Regions from separate parts of the Homo sapiens genome. Here regions 1, 2, 3, 4, 5 and 6 are each linked to region 7. The links come from fine-mapping of genetic effects on gene expression. A gene starts in region 7. Each other region holds a variant in brackets. All regions are shown on one strand. Distances are from middle to middle.

Evidence for each region. PIP is the estimated chance that this variant, and not a neighbour inherited with it, causes the effect.
Region 1: its variant is fine-mapped to the expression of KLF3-AS1 in gastroesophageal junction (GTEx, PIP above 0.99).
Region 2: its variant is fine-mapped to the expression of KLF3-AS1 in memory regulatory T cells (Schmiedel 2018, PIP 0.95). The same link has a PIP of 0.9 or more in Th2 cells, naive CD8 T cells and regulatory T cells.
Region 3: its variant is fine-mapped to the expression of KLF3-AS1 in liver (GTEx, PIP 0.98).
Region 4: its variant is fine-mapped to the expression of KLF3-AS1 in whole blood (TOPMed, PIP above 0.99).
Region 5: its variant is fine-mapped to the expression of KLF3-AS1 in tibial nerve (GTEx, PIP above 0.99).
Region 6: its variant is fine-mapped to the expression of KLF3-AS1 in esophagus muscle (GTEx, PIP 0.94). The same link has a PIP of 0.9 or more in pituitary.

Annotation. Positions count from the first base shown.
Region 1 is chr4:38,222,910-38,226,976 of GRCh38, reverse strand. No RefSeq gene overlaps it. Among named protein-coding and RNA genes, the nearest start is that of LINC02513, 140 kb to the left of the region's middle. The variant G/A (reference allele first, on the strand shown) is at 2,393.
Region 2 is chr4:38,684,452-38,688,518 of GRCh38, reverse strand. The region is part of intron 2 of KLF3 (KLF transcription factor 3); the gene reads right to left. Among named protein-coding and RNA genes, the nearest start is that of KLF3-AS1, 22 kb to the right of the region's middle. RefSeq lists cis regulatory regions at 303, 1,221 and enhancers at 219-388, 1,137-1,306. The variant TG/G (reference allele first, on the strand shown) is at 2,075.
Region 3 is chr4:39,494,102-39,498,168 of GRCh38, reverse strand. No RefSeq gene overlaps it. Among named protein-coding and RNA genes, the nearest start is that of UGDH, 31 kb to the left of the region's middle. The variant C/T (reference allele first, on the strand shown) is at 2,482.
Region 4 is chr4:38,595,773-38,599,839 of GRCh38, reverse strand. It overlaps KLF3-AS1 (KLF3 antisense RNA 1), which reads left to right. Exons shown (of 16, transcript NR_171644.1): 16 at 1-747. Among named protein-coding and RNA genes, the nearest start is that of LINC02278, 34 kb to the right of the region's middle. The variant G/A (reference allele first, on the strand shown) is at 2,407.
Region 5 is chr4:38,587,251-38,591,317 of GRCh38, reverse strand. No RefSeq gene overlaps it. Among named protein-coding and RNA genes, the nearest start is that of LINC02278, 25 kb to the right of the region's middle. The variant C/T (reference allele first, on the strand shown) is at 1,767.
Region 6 is chr4:38,628,156-38,632,222 of GRCh38, reverse strand. KLF3-AS1 (KLF3 antisense RNA 1) reads left to right here. Exons shown (of 16, transcript NR_171644.1): 3 at 1,642-1,723. Among named protein-coding and RNA genes, the nearest start is that of KLF3, 34 kb to the left of the region's middle. The variant A/G (reference allele first, on the strand shown) is at 2,367.
Region 7 is chr4:38,662,809-38,666,875 of GRCh38, reverse strand. KLF3-AS1 (KLF3 antisense RNA 1) reads left to right here and starts at 1,983. Exons shown (of 16, transcript NR_171644.1): 1 at 1,983-2,082. KLF3 (KLF transcription factor 3) reads right to left here and starts at 2,677. Exons shown (of 6, transcript NM_016531.6): 1 at 2,415-2,677. RefSeq lists an enhancer at 1-453, silencers at 1,937-2,286, 2,347-2,946, 2,957-3,226, 3,257-3,776 and a promoter at 2,415-3,217.

The DNA of each region.
Region 1 (4,067 bases), 440 kb after region 7:
TTCCAGGAAGATGAACACAAAGTATAATGTGAGACTTGAGGCAGACGCACAGCCAACATGTTTAAGAAACAGCAAAGAGGCCGGGTGCAGTGGCTCATGCCTGTAATCCCAGCACATTGGGAGGTCCAGGCGGGTGGATCACTTGAGGTCAGAAGCTCGAGACCAGCCTGGCCAACATGGTGAAACCCTCGTCTCTACTAAAAATATAAAAATTAGCCAGGAGTGATGGTGCACGCCTGTAATCCGAGCTACTTGGGAGGCTGAGGAATGAGAATCACTTGAACCCGGGAGGCACAGGTTGCAGTGAGCTGAGATCGCTCCACTGCACTCCAGCCTGGGCGACAGAGCGGGACTCCGTCTCAAAAACAAAACAAAAACAAAACAAACAAACAAACAAAAAGCAGCAAAAAGGTCAGAGTGGAGGGGAGAATAGGAGATGAGATCAAGAAGGCAAGTGGGTAAATCAGGTACAGTTTGCAAGGCAATAGAAAGAGCTTCTGGTTGCATTCAGAGAGATTTTGGAAGCCACTGGAAGGTTTTGAGCAGGGGATGGCATGATTTGGCTGACCTTTTAAAACCTTTGGCTATTTAGAAGAGAACATGGGGAGCAGGCCAAGAACACAGCAGGGAGAGCCGGCAGATACTATTGCAATAGTCCAGGCAAAGATGGCAGGGGCTGGAGGTGGGAGAGTAGTGGCAGAGATGGGAAGAGATGAGGAGTCGGATTCAGAATATATTATAAAGGTAGAGCTGATGGATTGTATGTGGGGTTTGAAAGAAAAAGAGGCATCAAGATGATGCTAAGGTAATTGGCCTGAACAACTGGAAGCTGGATCTGCCATTTATTGAAATAGGACAAACAGGAGAGAATCCAATTTGCCCTGGGCAAGGTCATGAGTTTGGTTTGTATATATTAAGTTTAAGATGCCTACCAGACATCCAGGGAAAGATGGCAAATAGGCAATTGGATATAAGAATCTGGCATTCCAAGGCTGGGCATGGTGGATCACACCTGTAACCCCAGTTTGGGAGGCCAAGGTGATTCAAGGAAGATTATTTGAAGTCAGGAGTTTGAGACCACCCTGGCTAACTTGGTGAAGCCCCATCTCTACTAAAAATATGAAACTTAGCCAGGACTAGTGGTGCATGTCTGTAATCCCAGCTACTCGGGAGGCTGAGGCATGAGAATTGCTTGAACCTGAGAGGCAGAAGTTGCAGTGAGCCAAGATTGCACCACTGCACTCCAGCCTTCTAGCCTGGGGGACAGAGCAAGACTCTGTCTCAAAAAAAGAAAAAAAAGAAAGAAAAGAATCTGGCATTCCAGGAATACATACAAGATGGATATATAAAAGCCTCCCTCTTTGGGAGAGCCACAGACATGGGACTCCAACCTGTGAGAAGTGCAGAGGCAGGACCCCAGCCCCAGGGGACCCAGAAGGCAGAAGGTTGTTCTCAAGCCTTAGAGTTTAATGTCATTTATTCCACTGGGCTTTCGACTTGTCTGGGATCTTTCACTCCCTTCTTCTTTCCTGTTTCTCCCTTTTGCAGTGTGAATGTCTATCCCGTGCCTGTCCCACCATTGTATTTTGAAAGCACATGACTTGTTTGGGTTCACAGGTCACAGCTGGAGAGGAATTCACCTCAGGATGAGTCTTACCCATATCTGATTTAAGTGATATTTAGACGAGACTTTGGACTTTAGATTTTTTAGGTAATACTGGAACAAATTAAGACTTTGGGGGTTGTTGGGATGAGATGAATGTGTTTTGCATGAGAGAAGAACATGAATTTTGAGGGGTTAGAGGCAGAATGCTATAGACGGAATATTTGTGTTCCCCCAAAAGTCATATGTGGAAACCTGTTCCTTTCATGATTGTATTTGAAGGTGGGTCTTTTGAAAGGTGATGAGATCATGAGGATGGGGCCTTCATGAATGAGATTAGTGCCCATATAAAAGATAGACCCCAGAGAGCTCCATTACCCTTCCCTCACGTAAGGACAACCATCTGTGAACCAGGAAGGAGAACCTCACCAGACATGGAACCTGCCGGAAACATGATCTTTGACTTCTCAGCCTCAAGAGCTGTCAGAAATAAGTTTCTATGTTCATAAGCTACCTAGTTTATAGCATTCTATGCTAGTAGCCTGAATGGATTAAGACAGGCTCATTTTCAAAAAACATTTTAAAAAGCCACATCCTCATTTAATGTTATGTAAATCTCAAAAGAAACTAAATAACAACCCAAAGCAAATTGAAGCAATGAAATAAAACAAAGTCTTTAACTCCTTTCCCACACAAATACAAACCCCTGCCCCCCACCACAGGATCCTAATTCCCCATCCAATTCTCATTAAGAGATTCTTTCCTAACCCAGACAATTATGAACTAAGC[G/A]TGCCACCCAACCACTCCCCTTCTCCTCCTCTAATGCCTCGTTTCACTGGCATTAGAAACAGTTAAAAAATACCATTTCAGGCAATACAATGAAAGCAGCTGGGAGAGAGAGGGCCAGACTCAACATTGTTTCTGGCAGGAAGAGAAGTTCCAGAGAATCTGATAATCAGAGGCTTTCATTTTCTTGCTCAAACCTGAGATGACTTTATCTAAAACTAATAACTTGGCAAGAGTACATCTACAAACTGCCCCGCCTCCACCTCCATTAAGTATGGAAAGAGTTCAAAGAGTAAAAACATACATAATATTTGCTGTAAGAAAAGTAGATCTTTAACACAAAAAAGATGCCGGAATTCATGAGAAGTGTGAAGCCGCCTCTGCTGGATCTAGTTTTGGTTAGTGATGCGCCTGCAAGCCACCCAGACCCACAGCCAGACCCTGTGGCCACCGCACAATCAAAGGGACTTTTATATCAGACACTGAAAGGCTTCGCTGTGAGCAGCCTGAGTAAGGGAGCAAAGAGAGGCAAACAGAGCTGCTTCCTCAAACCAGAGGACGGAAGGCAGGACCCCTGTTTCTCTTCCTGGAAAAGTCCTACTGATTGCACAGTTCCCTCACTATAAAGTAAACAACAGGCATTAGAACTCTGCCACCCAAATAAATACAGGGCTCATTTGTGTGTCTAATGGTTAACACAAGGTGCAAATGCCACGGGTCACATGGGTTAATTCAGAAAGAAAACAAATGCAATTAATAATTGACTTGGGCTTTTAACTCCCACGATGGGATGAATACTTCGACTTTCTACAGAAGAACAGTAATAAAGAAGAGTGGCCCCAAACTGGGCTCCCAGTGGCTTTTTAATCAGAGAAGATTGCCAGGGCCATAGATTTAACATTGGCAATTAAGCTTCATGGGCCAAACAAATGCACTGGCCTGGTGTATTTCCCTGAAACCCTATCTTCAATAATGCCATAAATTGGAATTGCATTGCACAAAAGAAGCTGATTCTAACTGCTGCAAAGAAAGTTCACAAAAGTTCACATTTAACTTGGCAGGCCAAGGCAGGGCACTTTGGCAACTGCACAGATTCTGATTTCAATTCCCTAAATCTGCCCTCAGGATTTCATTCTCCAGAGGATGGGTTGGCAGCAGGAAGGTCCCTTTGTGATTGATTTATTAGTTCCAATGCTTTATTTACAATTTTACAGGATATTGTAGCAGGGGAGCAAAACCAGTTCCATGGAAGTGAATCAAGTCTCATGTGGTTCGATGTTTTCTTCTGACCTTGTAAACCTCTTCCCCTTACCCCATTACTTTTTTGGAGTTTGTGTGAGCAAACCTAGGAAAGCTGGTTTGTAGCATGTAACTGGGTGAGAAATAATTTTGGTTTAATTTTTTTTTAAGCTCGCATCACCTTTGTTCTCCAGGCCTCAAAACATGTGGAAAAGACTGCCTTTAAGAAAGGAGGTGTGGGTGGGATTGGGGTACAACTTCAGGGAGTGGCACCAAATAGAGGTATCATAAACACATGAGTCTACAAGCACAGGATCTGGTCATGTTTTCCAAGACCTGAGAGGACTTTCTAATCATCAGATCCACAAACATTATTGGCTCCTGTTTCCAACAAAGTAAAATCTAAGAGTTTTCAATATTGGATTCTTATGTAGCTTTC
Region 2 (4,067 bases), 22 kb before region 7:
AGAAAAATATGCTAACAAGGCACTTAACAATTACATGGGCTTTACAAAATAGTTTAGATTTCGATATATATGTGACCTTAAAAAAATGCTCAAAGAGGTGGTCTCAACATTAAAAATGCTATGAGAGGCGGTCTCAAAAATATTAAAACTAAGATCAATGTGGTCACTACTGCAGATGAAAAATCTGAAATTTAATCCTAAGATGATTCCTGTGTCAAACATTAAGGCCGATACCTGGCAAAATTCTAAGACAGGTGATAGCACAGGCTTGGGGGCCATTATCATTAGGAGTCAGAGGTGGGCATCACAAGAACCAGTCAAGCCAAACCAACCTGGTTGCTTTTCTGGTGGGGTTTCTTGATGAGCAGGAAATGCTCTCTAGCTTTGATGTCTAACTTCGGCAGGACAGCTCTTTCTCAGGATAAGTAGTGTCTTCAACTTCAGCAGGACATTGATTTCTCATCATACTTGTGTATAATAAGCAAGAATGGGGCTGCAGGATAGGCAGTACCTTTCATTTGATGGGCTTCAGCAGCTGTACAATCCATGCCTAGGACTGGCCAACAATCCTAGTCAGCGTGGAACTGTGCTAGTTTCAGCACTGAAAGTCCCACATCCCATGAAACTCTACAGTCTCAGGCAAACCAGGAGGGGGTCAGTCACCATACACACCTTTGTACTGAAGGCCACCCTCACTGCGGCAATGATGTCCCTGGCCCTAACTTGCTCAGTGTTCTTATTCAGAATCTGAATGAAGCTGTAGACTTGAATGGCAAGTCTGTGGATGACACGGAACTATAAGAAACAGCTAACGTGATATGACTCACATAAGGAAATGTGGAGCTCAAAGTCATTCACACAAGCTGAGGCCCTGTGTTCTCTCCTCTATACCCTGCTACCCACTCATCAAATGAGGCTGGGGCACAAACAAGGGAGTGCAGAAGAGACAGAAGAGTCTGTTTCCTTCCCAAGATCTGGTCCACAACTGACCTCATTTATCTTCAAACACCTTTCTCTCTTTAAATATCAGGATAACCTAACTTTCATCTGCCAGCTTTAAATACAAACCAGTCATCATAATTTCACACAATGGGCACTATCCTTGACCATGGAGTTCACCTAAATTACTTCTATTCCTTAACTAACATTTTGTTGTAAATTTTCTTTGTAGAATGCAACCTAATTTTTAATTTAAAAAAATTAAACTCAACATAAACCATCATCTTTACTAGGCATTTTAGGGAAACTGAAATTTTGCATGTCAAGCCTGCTTACCTGCAGAAAATTCTTTGTACTTGAATGTCTGACAGTGACAGTGATAAACAACATATTGTGCTTCTCTTCCAGCTCTAAAACCCTATGTGTTTAAGAGTTAGAGGCAATACTAACTTGGGATGCAACCAAGAAAACCCAATGGTGCCTTGTAATTAAACAGCGTAAATGCACTATTAATTTCTGGGTCTCCTTGGCCCCTCTGGTGGCCACTATTGTGAGTTATGACTGTGGGGCAGCAGTGGTTTTGATAGGGATTCCTACTGAGATCACCCTCTTTCCTCTCTGGGCTTGGTCTGGGCGAATCCTCGGCTGGTTATGCATTGGAATCATCTGTGTTGTTTTTAAAATTCCAGATGCCCAGTCCCTGCTCCAGGCCTGCAGAGCAGCCTGTTAGGGAGGAGTCAGTCAGTGAAACTTTATCACATAACTGTGTTTATCTTTATCTGGTTTGGATGTCAGGTCCTCATGGTTAAGATCAAGGTTATGGGATAACCTACACAACGAGCTTATACACATGCCATCCTGGAAATCCCTTCTTGTCCCTGCTTATACAAGAGATGCTCACTGTCACGGGCTCTACTGCTCCCAACCAGAGTTTCTCAAACTTTACTGTGCACATCCATCTCCCTGGAGCACTCGTTAAAATGCAAATTTTGAATTACCGGGGAGTGGACCAAGGGAACTTAGGCTACCTTTTGAATAGCAATGCTCTAAATGACAGAGATAAAAAATAAAGATACTAAAGGTCTATTTAAAGGAGGGAAAAAGAATTTTCTTTTCTTTTTTTTTTTTTTTTTTT[TG/G]AGATAGGGTCTCACTGTTACTCAGGCTGGAGTGCAGTGGTATGATCATAGCTCACTGCAGCCTCGACCTCCTGGGCTCATATGATTCTCCCAACTCAGCCTCCAGAGGAAGTGGAACTACAGGCACATGACACCACGCCTCGCTAATTTTTGTATTTTTTTGTAGAGACTGGGTTTTGTCATGTTGTCCAGGCTGGTCTCGTACTCTTGGGCTCAAGTGATCTGCCTGCCTCAACCTCCCAAAGTTCTAGGATTACAGACATGAGCCACCACGCGCAGCCAGTTTTCACTACTAATACTGCTTAAAAACAAGAACATGAAGGATATAAAATCAGAAAACACAAAATGCATAAAAACAGCTTTGAGTTATAGATCAAGGATCAAATGAAGAAAAGATTCTCTACCTTTCTTTAAAGCCAGGCACGCACAGTACCAACGCAAGAGATCCAAAAGATAGCAACATTAAGTATTAAATAGATTTAAATTTAAATATTAAGATGGGTATTATTAAAAGAGGCACAAGGTTCATTAACAACACAACAAAATAAATCCATTATAAATCATGTACACTGGAGGGTTTCAGGGAGTAATTAAATATAGGAAGGAGAATGATTTCGCCTAGTCCTAAAGTCTAATGTGCTTTATATAATTCTCCAAAGGGCAATGGTTCTGGTACTAGGAAAAAACTTTAGGAAATGGGAGGCAGCATTGTTTCTATTGACGAAAATGTAGCTTCTCCCTTATTTTCAGCCCTGTTCTTCCAAGACCTCCCTATGACCTAGATTTTAATGCCAATAGTTATTGGCAGCTAAATGGGAAGCAAAATGAGGACACAGTTTTATTGCTGTCATTGCTGGATTTTTCTATGCATGGGGTGAGTTTTGGGAGAGTAGGAATTTAGAACCTCCAGATTTGCAAATCTAATAATATTCTCAGGTTTCTCAAGCCATTAAGACAGAAAAAGCCACACATAAAGCTAAGCTTTATCAACATTATGCAGTTTGCTGATAAGTCTGTTCTCAAATGAATGCCCTCATTCCCTCTATTGGATGTGCGATTATTGTAAGGTACAAGACTAACTGTGGGGAGAGACACATTTGGACACAGACACCCAACTCTGGGCAGATAATTAACTGTTTCCAGCCCAACTGCCTCACAAAAGGGTGAAGACATGTGGTCCCTCAAGCTGGTTCACTTTATTTGGGTGGCACACACAAGCTTTTGCAATCAGCTTCCAACAATCTGGTGCCGTGTAGGGACTGACACGGCAGGGTGTGTGCTCTGGGCAGGTACAACCTGGTAACAGTCTTCCCCGCTCTGTTCCAGACAGTTCCTATGTTCTATCAAAGCAATGCATACAAGCACGGCTGTACTGGCCCCATATCCAAATCAGAGACAAATGTTGATGAAGCAAAAAATGTGCCTCTGGCCACGGATGGACCTCCAGTGCCCTCTGTGCATGCTGCTTAGTCCAAGAGACCCTGTGTCCTGGAACAGAGCAGTCCAAAGACAAGACACAGACATGGGTCTTTCCCGCTTCTGCCTCTGGCCCCCACTAGGGATCTTAAGGGCTTAAAACAATGGGCTGGGCCAGGCATGGTGGCTCACACTTTTAACTCCAGCACTTGGAGAGGCTGAGGCAGGAGGATATCTTAAGGCCGAGAGTTTGAGACCAGCCTGGGCAACATAATGAGATCCTGTCTCTACAGAAAAAAACAAAAATGTAGCGGGGCATGGTGGTGCTTGCTTGTAGTCCCAGCTACTGGGGAGGCTGAGGGAGGAGGATTGCTTGAACCCAGGCGTTTGAGGTTGCAGTGATCTTGCTACTGCATTCCAGCCTGGGCAACAGGGCAATACCTTGTCTCAAAACCAAAACCAAACCAAAAAAAAAAAAAAAAAAAACACAAAAAACCAAAACAAAAAAACCTCCACAAAACCACTGATCTGCTATAAGAGTTATTTCCGTCTGTAACATGTACTCAGATGTTCACA
Region 3 (4,067 bases), 830 kb before region 7:
TTTGCTTTACATTTCTGCTTGAAAATATTATTGTATTCTGCTTAGTAATTTTATATTCTAGTAAAGGCATTGTAAGTCCAAAGATGTATGAAGATGTATGCTAAAGCAGATAGAATTAGGCACTTGTCCTGTCCAAATGAGGAATTTTTAAATTTTTAAATGGTTTTTTTTTCTATTTTTAGACATCTAATGCTATAGATTCAAACTTTTTCTACTCTTGTCTAGATATGCCAAATGCTGGCAAAAAATTGCTTTTGTTGTTGTTGTTGTTCTTTTTTTTTGAGACAGAGTCTTGTTTTATTGGCCAGGCTGGAGTGCAGTGGCACCATCTCGGCTCACTGCAACCTCTGCCTCCTGGGGTTCAAGCCACTGTGCCCAGCCTAAGAATTGCTATTTGGATGTTGCCGAATTTGTAAAAACACAGCAATAAGCAAAATCCTTTTGAACAAAGAAGTCCTGAGTTCATCTCATTGGTGGACTGAAGCAATTCTGTAGCAAATAAATCCTTTGAAAGAGCTCCAAAAAGAAGAAAAAAAGAAATAGGTACTTGTGCCGGGTGCAGTGGCTCATGCTTGTACTTTGGGAGGCTGAGGTGGGGGATCACCTGAGGTTAGGAGTTCGAGACCAGCCTGGCCAACATGGTGAAACCCCGTCTCTACTAAAAATACAAAAAAACTAGCCAGGCGTAGTGGCACGCGCCTGTAATCCCAGCTACTCAGGAGGCTGAGGCAGGAGAATCACTTGAACCTGGGAGCAGAGGTTGCAGTGAGCCAAGATGGCGCCATTGCACTCCAGCCTGGGCAACAAGAGCGAAACTGTCTCAGAAAAAAAAGAAAAGAAAAGAAAAGAAAGAAATAGGTACTTGTTTTAAATTGCAAGATGTTTCAATGCCTGGAACTGATAAGTAAACAATTATTGTAAGATATAATTACTGGCCGGGTGTGGTGGCTCATGCCTGTAATCCCGGCACTTTGAGAGGTCAAGGTGGGTGGATGCTTGAGCTCAGGAGTTCAAGACCAGCCTGGGCAACATGGCGAAACCTCGTCTCTAAAAAAATACAAAAAATTAGCCATGAGTGGTGGTGCATGCCAGTAGTCCAAGCTAACTGGGAGGCTGAGGTGGGAAGATCACTTGAGCCCAGGATGTCAAGGCTGCAGTGAGCCGAGATTGTACCACTGCACTCTAGTCTGGATGACAGAGTGAGACCCTGTCTCAAAAAAAAAAGAAAAAAGTTACTGGTAAATGGAGGAAAATGGGCAAAAGAGGGCTCATAGAGCCAGATAAACTTGCTGTTTGAAATGGGAGGAAAAACTCAGTAATTAGGCATGTAACTTAACAGCAATTTGAGACTTTCATGTGAAAAGTTGAAAGAAGGTGGTTAGTCTTTTTTTCTCTCCTCAACCAGTTAAAGACAATTGTTGTTTTTTTTAATCATACAAACTTTCAGTTTTTAAAAATATATATATTTAAATTTTTATACCTGATCCCTACCACCAGGAAAAGTTTCAATTTTTTATTAGCTAATATATTTTTGGTAGGGCAGAGGAATATTGGTAAGATTACTAACTGTACTTAAAATTGAAAATAATAGGCCGGGCGCTGTGGCTCACGCCTGTAATCCCAGCACTTTGGGAGGCCGAGGTGGGTGGATCACCTGAGGTCAAGAGTTCGAGACCAGCCTGACCAACATGGAGAAACCTCGTCTCTACTATAAATACAAAATTAGCCGGGTGTAGTGGTGCATGCCTGTAATCCCAGCTACTCAGGGGGCTGAGACAGGAGAATCGCTTGAACCCGGGAGGTGGAGATTACGGTGAGCCGAGATCATGCCATTGCACTCCGACCTGGGCAACAAGAGTGAAACTCCTTCTCAAAAAAAAAAAAAAAAAAAATTGAAAATAATATATGGACATGGTAAAAAGACATTCACATAGATACAAAAGGATAAACAAAATCTCTCTCCTACAATTTTCTCTCCTACAATTCCACTTAAGACTTCTTGGCTAAGCTACCTGAAAGCCTTATTTTTCCCATCTGTAAAACAGATAATCCATCTCCAACTCGAAGAATTGTTATAAAGATTACATGAGATGAATGTTTACACAAAGATCTTCTTGGCACAGTGACTGGCAGGCAATGAGCACTCCTGTTAGCACCATAACAAGCTGGTCCCACTGCACCAGAACCACGTGTAGGCTCTGGAATCACTAGAAGGACAGTAATTAACACTGAACATTTTGGACAGGCACTATGCAAAGTCCTTTAGGTGCATTTTCTCATCTGTTCCTCACATAAGTCTTTATTTCATTTCATTTTTTACTTCCCCATGTTATTCTAGGACTCATTTAAGTCTTTTGAGGTAAGTTCTGATCCTGTGATTCAGACTACAGGCAGAAGGCTCGGAAGATTTAGCAGCTTGCTCAGGGTCACACCTTAATAAGTGGCAGAACCAGAATTCAGGACAGACTATGTGACTTTTCT[C/T]TCCAGCTTTTAATATTAGTCATTCTGCTTCTCTGGATACATAAAGGTGCCCAGGTAAAAGTCATTCTTCTCAAATGCAAAGAATTAACCAGGCATCAGGCCAATACTTGTCATGCAGACTTAAGCCAATACTTTGTTATGCAGTACTTGTCACTGGTGCCTTATCTTCCTATTTCTCAAGAAAAAGCTAAAAATCTGGATTTGGTGGTGTGGTGTTTTTTGTTTTTTGAGACGGAATCTCTGTTGCCCAGGCTGGAGTGCAGTGGTGCAATCTTGGCTCACTGCAACCTTCACCTCGCAGGTTCAAGCTATTCTCCTGCTTCAGCCTCCTGAGTAGCTGAGATTACAGGCACCCACCACCATGCCCGACTAATTTTTGTAAAAATCTGGATTTTTATATAAAATCTCTCAATTTATAAGTGTTGGCACGATGTTTAAAAACAAATTTTTACACTACACACACCAAAATATCTGTGAAGGGTAGATCTAGATCAAAGGTTGCTAGTTTTTAAAAAAAGAAAACCCTAAATTCTGACATAATTTTAGATTTACAGAAAAGTTGAAAGAATGGTACAAAAATGCTGTATACCCTTCTTATTCACTAAATATTAATATTATATTTGCTTTGTTTTATCCTTCCTGTATACATCACACATAAAATTTATATTTATATAAATTTTTTTCCTGAATGATTTGAGATTAAGTTGCAAGGCCAGGTGCGGTGGCTCATCCCTGTAATCCCAGCACTTTAGGAGGCTAAGGTCAGGAGTTTGAGACCAACCTGGACAACATGGTAAAACCTCATCTTTACTAAAAATACAAAAAATTAGCCGGGCATGGTTGTGCGCACCTGTAGTCCCAGCTACTTGGGAAACTGAGGCAGGAGAATCATTCAAACCCGGGAGGCAGAGGTTGCAGTGAGCTGAGATTGTGCCACTGCATTCTAGCCTGGGTGACAGAGCAAGACTCTGTCTCAATAAAAAAAAAAAAAAAAAAAAAAAAAGAGAGTAAGTTGGAGACATGATTCCCTTTTCCCCTAAATACTTCAGGGTTATCTCAGTTTCTGTGGGTCAGGAATTCAGGAACAGTTTAGCCAAATGGTTCTGGGTCAAAGTCTGGTTGTAATCAAAATGTCAACCAGGGCTTTGGTCATCAAAAGGCTTGACTGGGGCTGGAAGATTGTCTTCCAAGATGGCTTGCTCATATGACTATCAAGTTAGTGCTGGCGGTTGACAGGAGGCCTCAGTTCTTTGCCAACTGGATCTCCTCATAGCACTGCTTGAATATCCTCATGACACAGCATAGCAAGTTGGCATCTTCAAGAGTGAAAAAACCAATAGAGGACAAGACAGAACCTCCAATGTCTTTTATTATCTAGCCTCAGAAATCATACCCCATCATTTCTATAATATCCTATTGTTTAACCAGATAGCTCTATTCACTGTCTGAAGAGACATGGATATCAGGAGGTGATAATCACTGGGAGCCATCTTGGAGGTTGGCTATTGGAGTTTTATTTCCCAAAAAATAAGGAAATAGGGCAGGTGCAGTGGCTAACACCTGTAATCCCAGCACTTTGGGAAGTC
Region 4 (4,067 bases), 67 kb after region 7:
TTTTGTTATTGATTTCTAGCTCAATTCCCCTGTGGTCAGGTAACATACTCTGATTTCAGTTCTTGAAATTTGTTGAGACTTGCTTAATGGCCCAGCATTTTGTAATTTTGGTGTATGAACTAAGTGTGTATTCTGCAGATGTTGGGTGCAGTATTCTATGAAGACCGATTAAGTCAAGTTTACAAATGTATACTCCTGTAAATGTAAACTGATTTTTGTCTTATTATTCTATTAGATCTCAGAGAGAGTAATAAAATTTGAATCTATGCTATTAGTTACATGTAAATTTAGAATTGTTGTATGTTCTTGACAAATCTAATTTTCATCATCATGAGGTCACTTTCTTTGTCTTTAGGAATGCTTTTAACCTTAGTGTCTAGTTTGACATTATTGTTAAATCTTTGAGAATTCTGATATTTTAGTCTTGTGTTTTGTAAGTAGCATATCAAATTCAGTGTTATTCGAGATAACAACCTTTGTCTTTTAATCACTGAATTTAAATATTTACATGTTATGTAATTTGTGATATTTTGGGGTTTAAATCTACCATTTTGCTCAGCTTTTCAATTTGTACTGCTTGTTCTATGTTCCATTTTTTTCATTTCTTGCCTTCATTTGCATTGATTGAAAATTTTTAAAAGTTATTTGAGTCCTATAAATTCTTGTGGTGATTACACCAAATATTGCAATATGTATATCTGACATAAAAATAAAATATCATTTGGTTGTTTTTTCTCTTCTGGGGAATGCATGTACTGTAAAACACTATCACTCTGTCTCTCCTGACTTAATGCTTTTTCAGTGTATTATAATTTTCTATATAATTCTCCACAAGATTTTACTTTTGGTTTTATATAGTCAATATTCATTTGTAGTTATCATGCCTTTCTGCATTTCTGACTTTCTACCTGAAACCTTTTCCTTTTGCCTGAAGACAGATTTATATATACGTAGATAAATAAATTCAAGTCTACTGGGGATGAACTCTCCCAGTTTTGGTTTGTCTGAACATGTCTCTTTTTACTTTCATTCTTGACATATATTTATATCTTGAGAGCAGAATTCAGGGTTGGCAGTAATTTTTTTTCAGCATTTTGGAGCTATTGTTCCATTGTCTTTTGGCTCAGAATGTTGCTGTTGAGGAATAAGCTGTGAGTCTGATTATTGTTCCATTGATGGCAATCTTTTTCTCTGGTTGTGTTGAAGATAATTTCTTCGTTCATTTTTTTGTTTTTAAATTTAACTAGTTTTTGATTTCCTGAATCCATCAATTGATGTATTTAATTAGTTTTAGAAATGATTCAGCTGATTACTCGTAAATGATGTTTCTGTTCCATTACCTCTCTTCGTTTAGTATTTCAGTTAAATATATATCAGAACTTTTCATGGATCTTTTATATCAGTGTCATGATTTGGAAAAAGAGAAGTACAAAATTGAGAATAAATATTCTGAAACCAACTGGCAGAGTAATTTTATGTCCTTTGAATCCAATAAAAATTTGGGCATATATTCAGTGTCTTTTTATTATTTCATTGTTCTAATAATTCATTTAAATTACATTTTACAAAGATATCATTTTATGACATTTTGGATTTTTTTTTAAGTTTGGAAAGTGCTTTACCAGCTTCCTTAACCTTCTTATAATTTTTTTTTAGCTTTGTCTTTTAGCTTTGTAGTATGGATATTTTCTTCCATACTACAAATTCTCTCTTCATCTGTTTGTAATTAAATGTGAAAGCTATTGTGTTTTAATTGTTATTTTTTTAATTCTAGCATTTTCACTGGCTCTTTTAAAAAATTAGTTTTCAGTTCTCCGCCAAAAGTCTCAAGGTTGACTTTTGTCTCTCTGAGCAAATTAAATATAGTATTATTTGAAGTCAATACACTTTTTTTTTTAAGTTGAAAAACTCTAATTTCTGAGCCTTTGTGATCTATGTCTGTGATTTCTTGGTTTTCATTTGTGTGGTCTTGTCTTGTTTTTCTGTTTTTCTTTTATTGTATTCAGATATTTGTACTTAAAACATTATTTGTAGACATAATTAGAATTCTATAATGATGTTGTCATTCTCCAAAGTGAATTTATATTTACTTCTGCTAGGTACTTGGGGCCTTAGCATTATGGGATCATGTTAATTCAATTCCAGGTACTGTGAAACTGAGTTTCTAGAACCTTCTTTTGGTTTATCATTGTTTTTAGGGTACTGTCCTTCAGTGGCCCATCCAAATGCAAAGAGATTCACCAGAGCTATCCAGGCTTGGTGATGCTGGGCCCCAAAATTGGCCTTAGCTCTGTGAGACACTTTTTAACCACCTTCCCGCTCAGCCACTTGGCCTCTCAGTCCTGCTTTTAGAAATTGGCATATGCTTCTAGGCACAGTGACTCACACCTGTAACCTCAGCACTTT[G/A]GGAGGCTGAGGCGGGTGGATCACTTGAGGTCAGGAGCTCGAGACCAGCCTGGCCAACATGGTGGCTGTCTCTACTAAAAATACAAAAAATTAGCCGGGTGCGGTAGTGCATGCCTATAATCCCAGCTGCTTGGGAGGCTGAGGCAGGAGGGTCACTTGAACCCGGTAGGCAGAGATTACAGTGAGCCGAGATCGTGCCACTGCATTCCAGCCTGGGCAACAGAGTGAGACCCTGTCTCAAAAAAAAAAAAAAAAGAAAAGAAAAGAAAAAAGAAATTGGCATATACCGTATTGGCATATACTGTAGAGAAAACTGCCCTACATGCCGGACTCAACTCCCTTGGTCTCTATCCTTTACCTGATACTAACCCAGTAATTCTGCACTATCTTGTTAGCTCTCTAGCACACCGGAGTAGATTTTTAAAGTATATTTTGTTTTGCTGATTGTCCTCAGTAGGTGGGATGGTATGAATTACCTAGTTCTCCATTCCTAGAACAGGAAGTCTTATATAATCTAGGTTTAACCAAATATCTCCATTAATGAGTAAGTGATTATGAAAATATTTTTAAAAAGAGGTTGATTCTGGAGATTTCCCTAATAATACAAATTTAATTGAACAACAAGAAAGGGCAGGGCTGACATTTTTCTAGCCCCTTATATAAGTACTTCTTTAGTTACATTACCAGAGAAAGCCATGAACAAAATAATTTGGCCAAAAAATTGTGAAATTATTCAGATAAATGTGATCTTTTAACAATAAATGAGGAAGTAACCATGTTTAATGCTATGAGTAGAGCATTTTGAAAATGGATATTTGGGAAATCTCCAATAGTTATGTATTTTTATTGCCAAAAATGCAGTGAATATGCCTCTTTAAAAACTCTCGTATCTACATACTTGGAAATGGAATTTTTAACCTTTTAAAAATGATAAATAAACAGTTCTAGGGGACTTTGAATCAACTTTTTTAAAGTTTGTATTAACAAGTAGTTGACATTAGGGAAGATAAAAATTTACTATCCAATTTTTATTGGAAACTTTAATTGATGGATAGGGTTGAAAAACAAGTATCATACTTTAGTGAGATAAGCAATAAAGTTCTTTTCTTGTTTTAATTAAAGTATTTTGGAAGTATCTTTTCCATGTCTGATAACTATTAAAACCAAGCACCAGGCCAGGCATGGTGGCTCACGCCTATAATCCCAGCACTTTGGGAGGCTGAGGCGGGTGGATCAAGAGGTCAAGAGGTAGAGACCATCCTGGCCAACATGGTGAAACCCCGTCTCTACTAAAAATACAAAAATTAGCTGGGCGTGGTGGTGCGTGCCTGCAGTCCCAGCTACGCAGGAGGCTGAGGCAAGAGAATAGCTTGAACTTGGGAGGTGGAGGTTGCAGTGAGCCAAGATCACACCACTGCATTCCGGCCTGGCGACAGTGAGACTGTCTCAAAAACAAAAAACAAAAAAAACAAAAACAAAAAAAACCAAGCACCAAAAGAAATGAATGTAAAATCAGACCTTTTATTCATAGAGGTTTAAATAGTGAAGCATATTCAATCACACAGCTCTCATCAAAATATTATTAATGAGAATTTCAAAGGTAAGCGCAAAATAGTTTTTGCATCATTAATAACATTATAAAAATGTGAAATATTTTATAT
Region 5 (4,067 bases), 76 kb after region 7:
GAGGAAGCCCAAGCTAGCCACATGGAGTGAGAGTGTGAGAAGAACCTGAGGCACTGGGCATGTGAGTGAACACTTCATGGACCTAGACTCTAGCTGAATGCAGCTGAGTGAATGAACCTAAGCCAATGCCTTGTGGGGCAGAAGAACTGACCAGCCAAGCCTTGCCTAAATTCTTGATCCATAGAATTGTGAACAAATAAAATGGTTGTCATCTGAACCCAGTAGGTATTGGGGTAGGTTGTGACACAGCTAATAGATCATTCAAACACACACACATATTCTTAGATAATGATAGAGATACACATAGGATGCTACAGGAGCACAGACGAGGGGTCCCAGAGACAGCCTGTGGTGATGATGGGATGGGCATTGAATGCTTTCCAAAGAAGGCTGGCTTGAGTAGCAAACTTCACATCTCTATAGACCTGGATGTGAACCAGGCTTGAGGGAAAGTGAAGGCTGTCTGGGTACAGGAAAACAGAACAAGAAAACATGGAGGTGATGAATAGCATGATACATATGTGAGGGCTTTTCAAGCAGGAAGTAATGGGTAAGTTTGCAGGGGTGTCATCATCATCATCATCATTGGGATAGATGCCATTTATTGAACACTTGATATATGCCAGATGTGGATCTAAGGTTTTCTATATGTTAACTCATTTAAATAATTCTAACAGCAAACCTATATTATCATTACCTTTTTACATTAGAAGCAAATGAGGCACAAAGAGATTAAATAACTTGCTCATGGGCACACAGCTGTCAAGCACAGAGTAAGGATTTGAACTCAGGCAAGATCTCAAAGAACTTTCTGTGCCTCTTTGAAGATCTCTGTATTTGCTCTGTAGGGATACAGAGTAACCCAGAGGTTTTAAGTAAGGGAGTGGCATGGTCACATCAAAAGATTCTACTGTTTTGCAATTTTTCCCACTTCAGTTATTTTCATTGTCTGTTGTCTGTTTCTCTATAGTGACTAGCAATGAATCTCTTATAACAAGCAGAGCCTGTGAGCTCATCTTTGAGAGGATGTAAGGAAGGAGGGAGGGGCATGGGTCACGTACAACTCCACAGCTGGTCGTAGGGGTGGAGGGAAGGACAGAACGCCCAGGGAGAAAATGGGTGTGGTGGCCACCAAGAGAAGAAAGCTGGCTGCATCCTTGACCCCAGGGAAGAATGAGGACAGCAGCACATGGGAACCAGCCTGTGCTAAACTCTTTGGAGCTGAGGTACCGATGGGATCCTAGGCTTTGCAGACAATCTGCCTTTCTCTCTTTCCTTCTCTCCATGGCCCTTCAGGAGATTAGCATCAAAATATTAAAAACAGCTGTTGAGCTCCTAACAGCAATTAGCAAGGAAGAGAGCATTCCATGGAAATCCAGAAATGTTCTCCTGGCCATGGCTATTGGCTTCTGAAGAAGTCCTTGAGGGCAACTGTGGAGTCGCGGGACCCACATATACCACATCCATCTTCTCTCTGTCCCTTGCTCTGTCTCCATGTCTACGGGCATGGAGCAGACTCAGCGGAGTCTGAATCTCTGTGCAGATTTGTCAGATTCTTGTTCCAGCAGCTTTTCATGCAAGGAGGGAAGCAACAGAGTGTAGAATAAGAAAGAAGTGTGGCTTAGGGCCTAGGAGAACCTAGAAGACCTAGCCTCCAGCTTAGCTTGGCCAATACTTGCTTTGTAGGATATGGGCAAATGTCTGAAGTTCCTAGGTCCCAAGGTCCTCATCTGCAATATGAGGGTGTTGGATGAAGATTAATCTTA[C/T]CACAAAGCATAAAAATTACAATAGCTGAGGTTTACTACACATGGACTAAAAACCTGACCCTTTGCTAAGGACTTTTTTTACTTTTTTAGTTAATCCTCACAATAACCCAAGTTTAATGAAGCTTACTGAAGCCTTCCCTCATCCAATCCAAAGCTCCCTGTATACATTATCTATTGCTGTGTAACAAATTACTTCAACTCTTCATGGCTTAAAACAATAATAAAATGTATCATCTCATAGTTTCTATGGGCCAGGGATTGTGAAGCAACTTGGCTGGGTGGTTCTGGCTTGACGTCTCTTATGAATCTGCAGGCTACAGTCTTCGGAAGCCTTGACCAGGGTTGGACGATCACTTTCAACATGATAGGTTGGCTCTGGCCATTGGCAAGCTTGGTGCTGGCTATGGGCAAGAGGCTTCATTCATCACCACCTCACCCTAGGACTGTCTGTTAAATTACTTGAGTGTTCTCTCAACGTGGCTGTTCGTTTCCCAAGAATGAGTGACCCAAGAGAGTGATTTGGTAGCTGCAATGTCTTTCATGACCTGTCCTTGGACATAACACCCTCCCATTGCCTTATTCTGCTGCTTCTAGTTTTAAATTTTAACCATGTTTCTGATGACAAGGAATGCTGCAAAAATACTCTAGTTCAACAAAGAGTTATGATCACAAAATAATTTTTATCCATTCTACAGTGTTTCAGAATTACCAGTTGATTTTTAAACACAAAGTAGATATAGATGCCAATGGTGGCTACATCTTATTGGTTACCTGGGTTAGCCCACTCAACATGAAGAGGAACACACAAGGGGATGAATATCAGGAGGCGAGGATCATTAGTGGCCATCTTTGAAGCTGCCTACCACATCTTCCCCTTAAATTTCTATCATATTATTGTGTTCTATTTTTAATAGTTTTTATCTGAAATCATCTTTTTTTGGTAGAGACCCATTTCCTCCCCATTAGAAGATAAGCTTCCCAAGAGCAGGAATTTCATCCTTTTTATTGCTGTACCCCCAGCACCAGAACAATGCTGGTTGCATAGTTGTTGCTCAATATTTAGCATGAGATAGGTATTACTTTGCCAATTTCAGACACAGAAACAGAGGCTCAGAGAAGTTAATTTGCCTGAAGTCACATAGATATTAAGTGGTGGAGCTGAGAAACCAACTTATGCATAGGGACTGATACCCACAGTCTACTTGGTTGGCCCTCAGCAACTCCATTGCTGCCATTATGCAAGTGTCTGCACATGAAGAGCAGGACAACATCCAGGAGAAGGGCCAGGAGAATTCCTGGGTAACTGGGAGATACCAGGAGGAAGTGCATGAGTGTCTATATGAATGGATGCATGTGTATGGTTGAGATGGTTGAGTGTGTATATTTGTGTGTATAGCAGACAGAGAGAAAGAGAGGGGGGACAGAGAAAGAGAGAGAGAGAGAGAGAGAGAGAATGTGTGGATGTGTGGGTAAGGTAGCTGGATCAAAGGGGAGATAATGTACTCTGGACAGCTTATATGACACAGACCTGGAGATAATATTTTGACCTTAGCCTTATTGGTTTTCTTTGAAAAATTTTTCTCCAAGGAATATTCTTATTAAAATGACTAAGTAAATTTTCCTTTAAAAATCCCACATGCAATTTAAGTCATTGGTTGACTAGCAAGTCTACTGCCAAATTACACATGGAATACTAACTTGATTATGTTTGCGGGAATTATCCATTTTCTGGATTATTGGCCAGAAAAAGAGAAATACTGTCTGTTGGCCACCCACTCTCCATTCTCCTTTCCACCCTCCTGAGGGAGGGGCCCTGATATTCATCAAATACTCAATGGGGTTCTTTTAGAACAAAGCCTTATCCACCCCCTCTCCTTGCCTGGGAGCTAGAAATTTGGGGGAGGAATGAAGGGAAATGGTTATGAAAGTCCCTCACTTACTCTCCCTCCTCTGAGGCATTCTGGGTGCTGAGTTTTGGAGCAAGGGGTATTGTGTGTAGAGTAGAGGTTTTTGGTCTTTGAGTGAAAGCAGAGTGGAATCCAGGAGAAAGCCCACATAAGTTGATTGCTGAGGCTGGCTCTGATCTAGTATGGAAGTGAAGGTGGTGGTGGGGTCCCACAGTTACTTCAAGGCCCAGCCCAGTTTACCAGGGTAGGAAAGCAGAGAAAGATTTTGTGTAGAAGGCCTGCTCAGGAAAAATGAGTTTGCATTTAGCTTGAAAGTATCCTCAGGAATCTGTGGGTGGCTGTGGTTAGCTGGACCAAAAGCAGACCTGGCTGAAAGATTGAAGTAAGCTTCCTC
Region 6 (4,067 bases), 35 kb after region 7:
TGTGAGATGTGCCTCAGTCTCCTCCCCTGATTAAAATAGTTCAGTGACATCCCAGTGTTTTGGTGATCAAGTCCAAACTCCTGAATGTGGCACTGCAGGTTTTCTTGATCTGGCAATGTGTCTGCCTCTTCAGTATCTTCTGCAACCCTCCAACCCATAGACTGTGTTCTCACTGGAACTCACTAGGTTGTGGGGTTCTCCAGGTGCTCTGTCGCCCAGGCTGGAGTGCAGTGGCGCGATCTCGGCTCACTGCAACCTCCTCCTCCCGGGTTTAAGTGATTCTTGTGCCTCAGCCTCCCGAGTAGCTGGGAGGACAGGTGTGCGCCACCAGACCCAGCTAGTTTTTTAGTAGAGACGGAGTATTGCCATGTTGGTCAGGCTGGTCTTGAACTCCTAGCCTTAAGTGATCCGCCTGCCCCGACCTCCCAAAGTGCTGGGATTACAGGCATGAGCCACCGCGCCCGGCCAGGATTCTCCATGACTTCTGACACGCTTTCGCTTTTACAAAGGATGCTCGTGGCCTGTAGTGGCATCCTCAGCTGCCAAGCCTCAGTGTAAGTGTCACCTTATCCAGAAGATCTGGCCCACTCACCTTCTCTACCTGTTTGGGTACAATGCTGCTCCTAAATGCTCCCAGGTACCCCAGGCGTACCTTGTGTGTTCTATCACTTGTGTCCTCCTGGGTATTAGTCTCCTGTTGCTCCCTAGGTGACAGCCCCCTGAAGGCAGAGGCTGTGCTTTGTGTCTCTGTGTCCTTATTGCATGCATGGCTCACTGCCTGGCCCCAGGAGGCCCTCCCTCAGAAAGCATCCACCCCCGATCCCCACTTCATGGGATCCACTCATTGGCAGCCTCAAAGAAGTAAGAGAGACTGAATTTAAAAGTCCTTGCAAAGGCTGGGTGTGGTGGCTCACGCCTGTAATCCCAGCACTTTGGGAGGCCAAGGCGGGCCGATCACGGGGTCAGGAGATCGAGATCATCCTGGCTAACATGGTGAAACCCCGTCTGTACTAAAAATACAAAAAATTAGCCGAGGGTGGTTGCAGGCGCCTGTAGTCCCATCTACTCGGGAGGCTGAGGCAGGAGAATGGCTTGAACCTGGGAGGCAGAGGTTGCAGTGAGCCGAGATCGTGCCACTGCACTCCAGCCTGGGCGACAGAGTGAGACTCCATTTCAAAAAAAAAAAAAAAAAAAGGCCTTGCAAATGACTTCTTTACATAGAACCTAAATTAAAATTTGGAATCACAAAACACAGCATTTTATAATCTGGAAAGGATTTAGAAGTTATCTAGGGAGGTTGTTTTCAATCAAGAGTTGGGGGACTAGTACAAGTCTGAGGCACAGTTTTCACACTCCAGGGCAAAATGAGAAAAACATGAGCAATGGAGCAGACAAAAAAATAAAAATCAGGATAAATGCATTACATTTAATGATGGTTTCTTATTCAGAGAGTATGTTGCCCTCCTCCCATTTTAAGGTTATTTATGGATGATATGCTAGTATGTGGTGGTGTTGTGTTTTTATTTCCTTGGTAACCCTGCATTAGTTGTTAGTTCCTTCTTGATTTTTTTTTTTTTTAGTTTAATTGGTCTATTAATTCTAAAAGTCTGGAAACCCTAGCTCTTGTGTCTTTACCCTCAGAACTGAGATCCAGAGAGATGATGACTTTGCCCATAGACCAAACAAAGAAATACATGTTTCAGTCCTGTGTCCTCCTGCTATGGTATGTAGTGCAGTTGTGTACTTTAAAAAATATTGTCTATATTTGGTGTGATTGGTTTTCTGTTCAGCATTTTAAATTCAGAAATGAACCAGTCAGTTAACATATTTGTTGTATTGCAATTGGAAACAGTCTTGCTCTCTCAGAAGCGTCTGTAACCATATGGTATTACTGTCTGTCAGTATTTGGTGAGGTTTTAAGAAATGTCAGAGTTCTGAAGTTATATATTAAATATATGTAATGTTATTATTGACTTTGATATGAAAATAAAGACTGTTCTCTTTCAATTTTTGAATGCTTACTAAGTTTGAAGATGCTGTAAGCACCTTAAAAAAGAATTTAAATGACTGAATTTGGCTATTGCTGTAATTCTGCTTTTTAACATCTGAATACTGTTCAACTGAGAAATTCCACTTCTAAGAGCTTATCATAAGAAAATAATGAGAGATACATTATGCAGAGATGTATGTATAAAGCTGTTCATTAAAGCATTTGTGTTAAACATCAGAAATAAATGTCCAATAACAGGAAATTGGTTAAATACATTTTGTTACAGTAACTTAATGAAAAGTACTTTGGTTATTAAAATGGCTGTACAGTGGACCCTTGAGCAACATGGGCTTGAACTCTGCAGGCCCACTTACGC[A/G]TGGATTTTCTTCCTCCTCTGTTGCCCTTGAGGCAGCAAGACCAACCCCACTTCTTCCTTTTCCTCAACCTGTTCAACATCAAGACTATGAAGATGACGAGTTTTTTTAATTTTATTTTTTGAGCGGAGTCTCACTCTATCTCCTAGGCTGGAGTGCAATGAAGTGGTCTTGGCTCACTGCAACCTCAGCCTCCTGAGTAGCTGGGACTACAGGCACGTGCCACCACACCTAGCTAATTTTTGTATTTTTAGTAGAGATGGGGTTTCGACATGTTGGCCAGGCTGGTCTCAAACTCCTGACCTCGTGATCCACCCACCTTGGCCTCCCAAAGTGCTGGGATTACAGGCGCGGGCCACCACACTCGGCCAAAGATGAAGACTTTTATGTTGATCCATTGCCACTGAATGAATAGTAAATATATATTCTCTTCTTTATGATTTTCTTTGTAACAATTCATTTTCTCTAGCTTACTTTATTGTAAGAATACAGCATGTAATACATATAACATACAAAATATGTATTAATTGATGGTTTATGTTATTGGTAAGGCTACTGGTCAGCAGTAGGCTGGCAGTAATTAAGTTTTTGGGAAATTGAAAGTTATCTACAGAATTCTGACTGCGGGATTTGTGCGGGATAGGTACCCCGAATCCCTGTGCTGTTCAAGGGTCAACTGCATTTTTATTTTTTATGTTCTTGTCTAAATTTTCTAATTTTATTTACCACAATTATATTGTACTTATATAACTAAAAAGTGATAAAATTTGACTAGCTCAATGCTTTGTACAAATAATGTTCCTTATTTGTTTTTCATTTGCTTTTTTTCAACTTGACATTGTTGATTAATATAATTTGACAGCCAATGAAAGTTCAGTATATGCAGATTCTAAGTTTTAATTTTTTGATTTCACTGTTATATCTTCTATTTTTATGTAGTTTTCCTTTTCTGAGACTGAACTGCTGTAAATCAGCACATAGTCCAACGGGAAGCTGTCATTTTCACTTTCAGCATCGTGCTCCCCTGCAAGTTCTTATTGGAGGTTCTAATTAAGTATCAATAGGGTCAAGCACCATAAACTCAAAGATCTAGAAGACATTTGAAGAAGCAATTGTCTAAATATTTCTTTCTTTTTTTTTTTTTTGAGATAGAGTCTCACTCTGTCTCCCAGGCTAGAGTGCAGTGGTATGATCTCAGCTCACTGCAACTTCCGCCTCGTGGGTTCAAGTGATTCTCCTGTCTCAGCCTCCCAAGTAGCTGGGATTACAGGCGCACGCCACTACACCCAGCTAATTTTTGTATTTTTAGTAGAGATGGGGTTTCACTGTGTTGGCCAGGCTGGTTTCGAACTCCCGACTTCAGGTGATCTGCCCGTCTCGGCTTCCCAAAGTGCTGGGATTACAGGCGTGAGACACCATGCCCAGCCAATATTTCTTTTTTTCTCTAGACCCAACTGCATCTTAGCTCAGAGTAGGAATATTGGCCATGGGATTTTCCAGGTTTGCAGCCTGTTGGCCTAACATCTAGAAAGAATAGCATCCTTAGTATTTCCAGCCCCAAAGTAGTCTTCTTGAAAAAGGAAGATAGTAGGAGCTTGATTATATTGTGACTGTGTATGCCTGTGTATGTGCCCACTTGTGTGTGTGCCAGAGAGGGAGGGAAGGTGAGTTGGAATGGGTAAAGGAGTTTCTGGTATCTTTGG
Region 7 (4,067 bases):
AGATAGAGCACTGCTGTTAGGAATTCAGATTACAATTGGGGTACCCCACAGAACCAAAATTGGAGCAACTGTAAGCCTCCTTTAGTCACAGAACTAAATTCCAAGACAGACTGTGGGACATCTACAGTAACCCAAAATTTTCACTGTCTTTTTCAAATGCAGTTATACACATCTTTGCAGAGCTGCTCATCTGTTCAACATATACACACGTTTATAGAAATTCGCCTTTTAAGAATGTGATTCTGTTCCTGACATTTATCTAAAAATTATTATGCAATCTGTACACCAGAGTACTAATTTCTAGAAGTCATTCTAAAATGTCTATTTTCCCTTTGGGTTATTTTTAAGATAGTAAAATCCATTCACAGTTCCTTTCCCATTATTTCTCTTTACTTTGTTAGCCAGGACTGTTTAACTCAAGCTTACGTTATCAGAGATTTAAGAATGTGGTGTGTGCAGACTAAGTACAGGTAAGGAAAAAAAAAAAGAAAAAAAAAGGAAAAAAAGAGCATCACTGTGCCCATAGCAACAAGAAGATTGGGTTTTAATTTAGAAACTTTGCAGTGAATAAAACAATAGCTTTCTGCAAAACTCTGTTGTCGTTTTGTACCTGACAAGGTTTTGTGGTCTAAGCAGTTACTTTTCTTTGTTATTCCCATGTTGAGATTTTTGTACTTGCATTCCCTTTCATGCAAGCTAAATGTTCTTTACAATGTATCATCATTGAACTTACCGATAGTACATTAGGTTTTTTTCTTCTAATAAATAGTTCTGCAGCAAAGCCCACTGACTGCAGAAATGAAGATACCAGTTTCTCTAGGGAGTTTAATTTAATCGAACATCTAATTTCAGGTTTCTATTAACAGCCTAAGGTCAACTAACATACCTCTTTTCAAACCAGAAGAAATCACTCGTGGACACTTTCCTTAAACACTATTACTAACTCCAAAAAATTTGTAGATATTAATGCTAGCAGATTGTTTTTTCCCCTAAAAGCAAGTCTTCTTCCCTAGGGTGAGGCAGATCATCCAGATGAATTTCTCTTATAAAAATGCTCCTCAAATTCGTACAGAAAAGGATAGCACAAAACTGCTGTGTGGAAAAACCTATAATGAACAACTGGCCTATTCCCCACTTGATTTTGCTGGCACATTTCAGGTACTTGTCAGAATACCACTTCATACTTTTTCCCATATACCAGACTCTTGTGAGAATATAATCAATATATTTAAAATGTCTTGGGTGATATTAATGGAAACATAAATTCTGAGTAAGAAATTCAGTGGTTAAGTGTAAAATGTTTATTTTAGTGAAATACAAGAAGGTGAGCAATTTCCAATTTCCGTTTAACTTGACTTATTAAAAATAAGTCTCATTCACATTCTTCTAGTATTATTGTATACTGCTATAAAATTTAAACCAGAAAAGTGCTTCTCCTTGTCAGTAGCTATCTGCCCAAAAAAATGAATATGACAATTCCAGATCTCATCTGCCATCTCTAAGAAAGCCACTTGGAAATGTTAGGTAGGTCCCATGGGTCCTGATCCAGGGATCTGTCCCTGGGTCCCCATCAGGCTCGGCTGCAGGCAGTTGCCTAAGGCGTCTTCCGCCTTCAGCCACGCTGCAATCCTTGCTCCAGGCACTGCGGCAGGTTCTCTCCATGCCCCCAGGAAGACTCTCCAAACCCGACCAGCTCATTTCTCCTGCCCCGGAGGATCCAGACGCCCTGGCAGCTCCTGGGCTCCAGAACCGAGAATGGGATGCTGCCTCCAATCCCAATTGCCCTAAGTTTCTTTCCAGAGGGCCGGGAGACTGCTCCAAGTTTGCTGTGGCGGGCGAGCGGCCGCGCGCCGTGTCCTGGGAGGGGGGCGGCGGGGGGCGCGGGCGGAGGGAGGGGAGGGGAAGGACGCGGGAGCCTGGGTTGTGGTGGTGGTGGGGGGGCACCGGGAGGGGGAGGAGCAGGAGCGCGCGGCCGCGGCGCTACCTTTCTCCAAACAACGTTGCCACACGCGGAGAGCACGGAGATTTCTGGGGCTTTGGAGGGAATCGTGAGCGGGCGGGAGGAGGCCGGGGACCACACAGGTGAGCCCCCGCCCGCGCCCTGCCCGGGACGGCGGCGGGCGCTGCCAGCCCCGCTCCCCCGCACCCGGGGTCCGCACGGTGCCTCGCCTCAACCCCTCACTTTTCACCGCGAACCCGTGACCCCCTCCTCCTTGCTTGCTCTCCGCCCCCACCCCGGCTAAGTGTAGCCGCCACACTTTCCCAAGCCCGCAGGCGCCCCCCCCAACACCAGCGCTGCACCCCCGACCCATTCCCCGCGGCCCCCTCCAGGAGAAAAAATGAAACCAGACTGGCCGAGGAGGGGGGCGGCAGGGACCAGGGTGCGGAGCAGAGGTGAGGGAGACGGGACTTACTTTGCGAGGCGCGGTGCAGGGCGCCGCCGACGAGAAATAAAGGCCCCGATACGGGCTGCCTGGAGCCCCCCGAGCGCAGCAATGTCAGGGCTCCAGTCCGGGCGGCGTTGGCGGCCGCAGGGGACGGGGACGGGCGCGCGTGCGGCGGGCGCTCTCGCTGCGCTCCGGCTCGGGCCCCGGCTCCGCGCGGCTCCGCTCCTGGCTCCCCTCTGGCTCCTGGCACCAACTCCGGGCAGTCACATGACGCCGGCGCCGCTCGCTCTGCGAGCCTCCCGGGGCTGGCGGGGTAAGTAGAGGCTGGGACCCGGGGTGGGAGGGTCAGGGAGGGGAGAGGGAGCCGCCGCGGCCGCCCGGGCTGGGCGGGTCCCCACCCACTTGGGTGGAGGCAGCCGCCGGAGGGGTCGGCCGAGTCACTCGCGCAAACACGCACCCCGCCCTGCGCCCTTCCCCCGCCACCCCCGCCTCCCGCGCCGCCTCCGCCCCGCCCCGCCCAGTCACCCGGGGACGGCCTGACAGACACTCATTATTCCCCGGAGCCGGGCGCCGCCCCGCCGGCCCAACCTGTCCCACGAGGCGCGGCGCGGCCGTGGGGCTGGGCGTGCGCGGCGCGGCCTCCGCCCCCCGCCCGCGTCCCCGCCCGCGTCCCCTCCCCGCGCCCTCCTCCCCGGAGTCCGCGCCCCGCCAGCCCTCCCGCCCGGCCCAGCCGCCGCGCCGCCGCCCGAGCCCGGGGGGAAGGAAGGGCGGCGCTGCCCGCTCCGGGCGTCACACGGCTGCGGCCCGCTGCGCTGCTTCCAAAACACACAGCCGGGCTCGCGGGCGAGCCGAGGCGGGGGGCGCGGGCTGCCAGGGCCATCGATCAGCCGGCTCCAGCGGGAAGGGCGGCCCCGGGCGCGGCGGGAAGGGCTGGGCCCCGCGGCCGGCGCGGCGCGGCGCGGCCCCTCCTCGGCTGAGCGCACTCAGCTCACTGCAAGAGAAAAGCCGAGCCGAGGCGGCCGCGGTGCAGGAGCGAGTGGGCCGGGCGGGTTCGGGAGGGGAAGAGCGGCCGCTGGGGCGCGCCGAGCCTCCCTGGCCCCGAGTCGCCGGGGTCAGGGGACACCCTGTAGGCGCGCTCTTTCTTTGTGCCCTGGGGCGACGGGTCCCCCTGGCCGGCGGCCCAGGCGGCGCCCCCCACCTCGTGGGACTTTTCTTTGAAGGCCCGGAGACCCCTGGGGCAAAACTCCCACGGGCCAGGCCTGCCGCTGGAGCTAAAAAGCGGCATTTGCGCAGTTGGGCTTGCCTGGAAACTTGGCAAACTTTGGTCGGATCCTCCCCTGCAGAGCGAGGGCCTGGCCTGGCGACCCCCTCATTTCAAGTCGCTTCTAGGGACCTAGCGCCCTAAGCTCAGTGGCCTTCAGGGTGCTGCGAGCGAGCGGGGCGGCACAAAAGCGCGTTCGGTCCAAGCCAGGCCCCTTCGAGGACTTTGTGTAGATTGGTACCTAAGTTTAATGCCTTTTGAGTTTCTTTTTAAACAGTATTAATGTAATAATTAATGTAATAAAAAGAACAAAGGACGAATTCGTTCGATTGTTTTAAGTTCTGTGTAATGTTTAAAACCGCCCCTGCTTCAGTGTATGGCTTATTATTGCTTCAAGATGTTTTAAAGGCCCTTTAAGT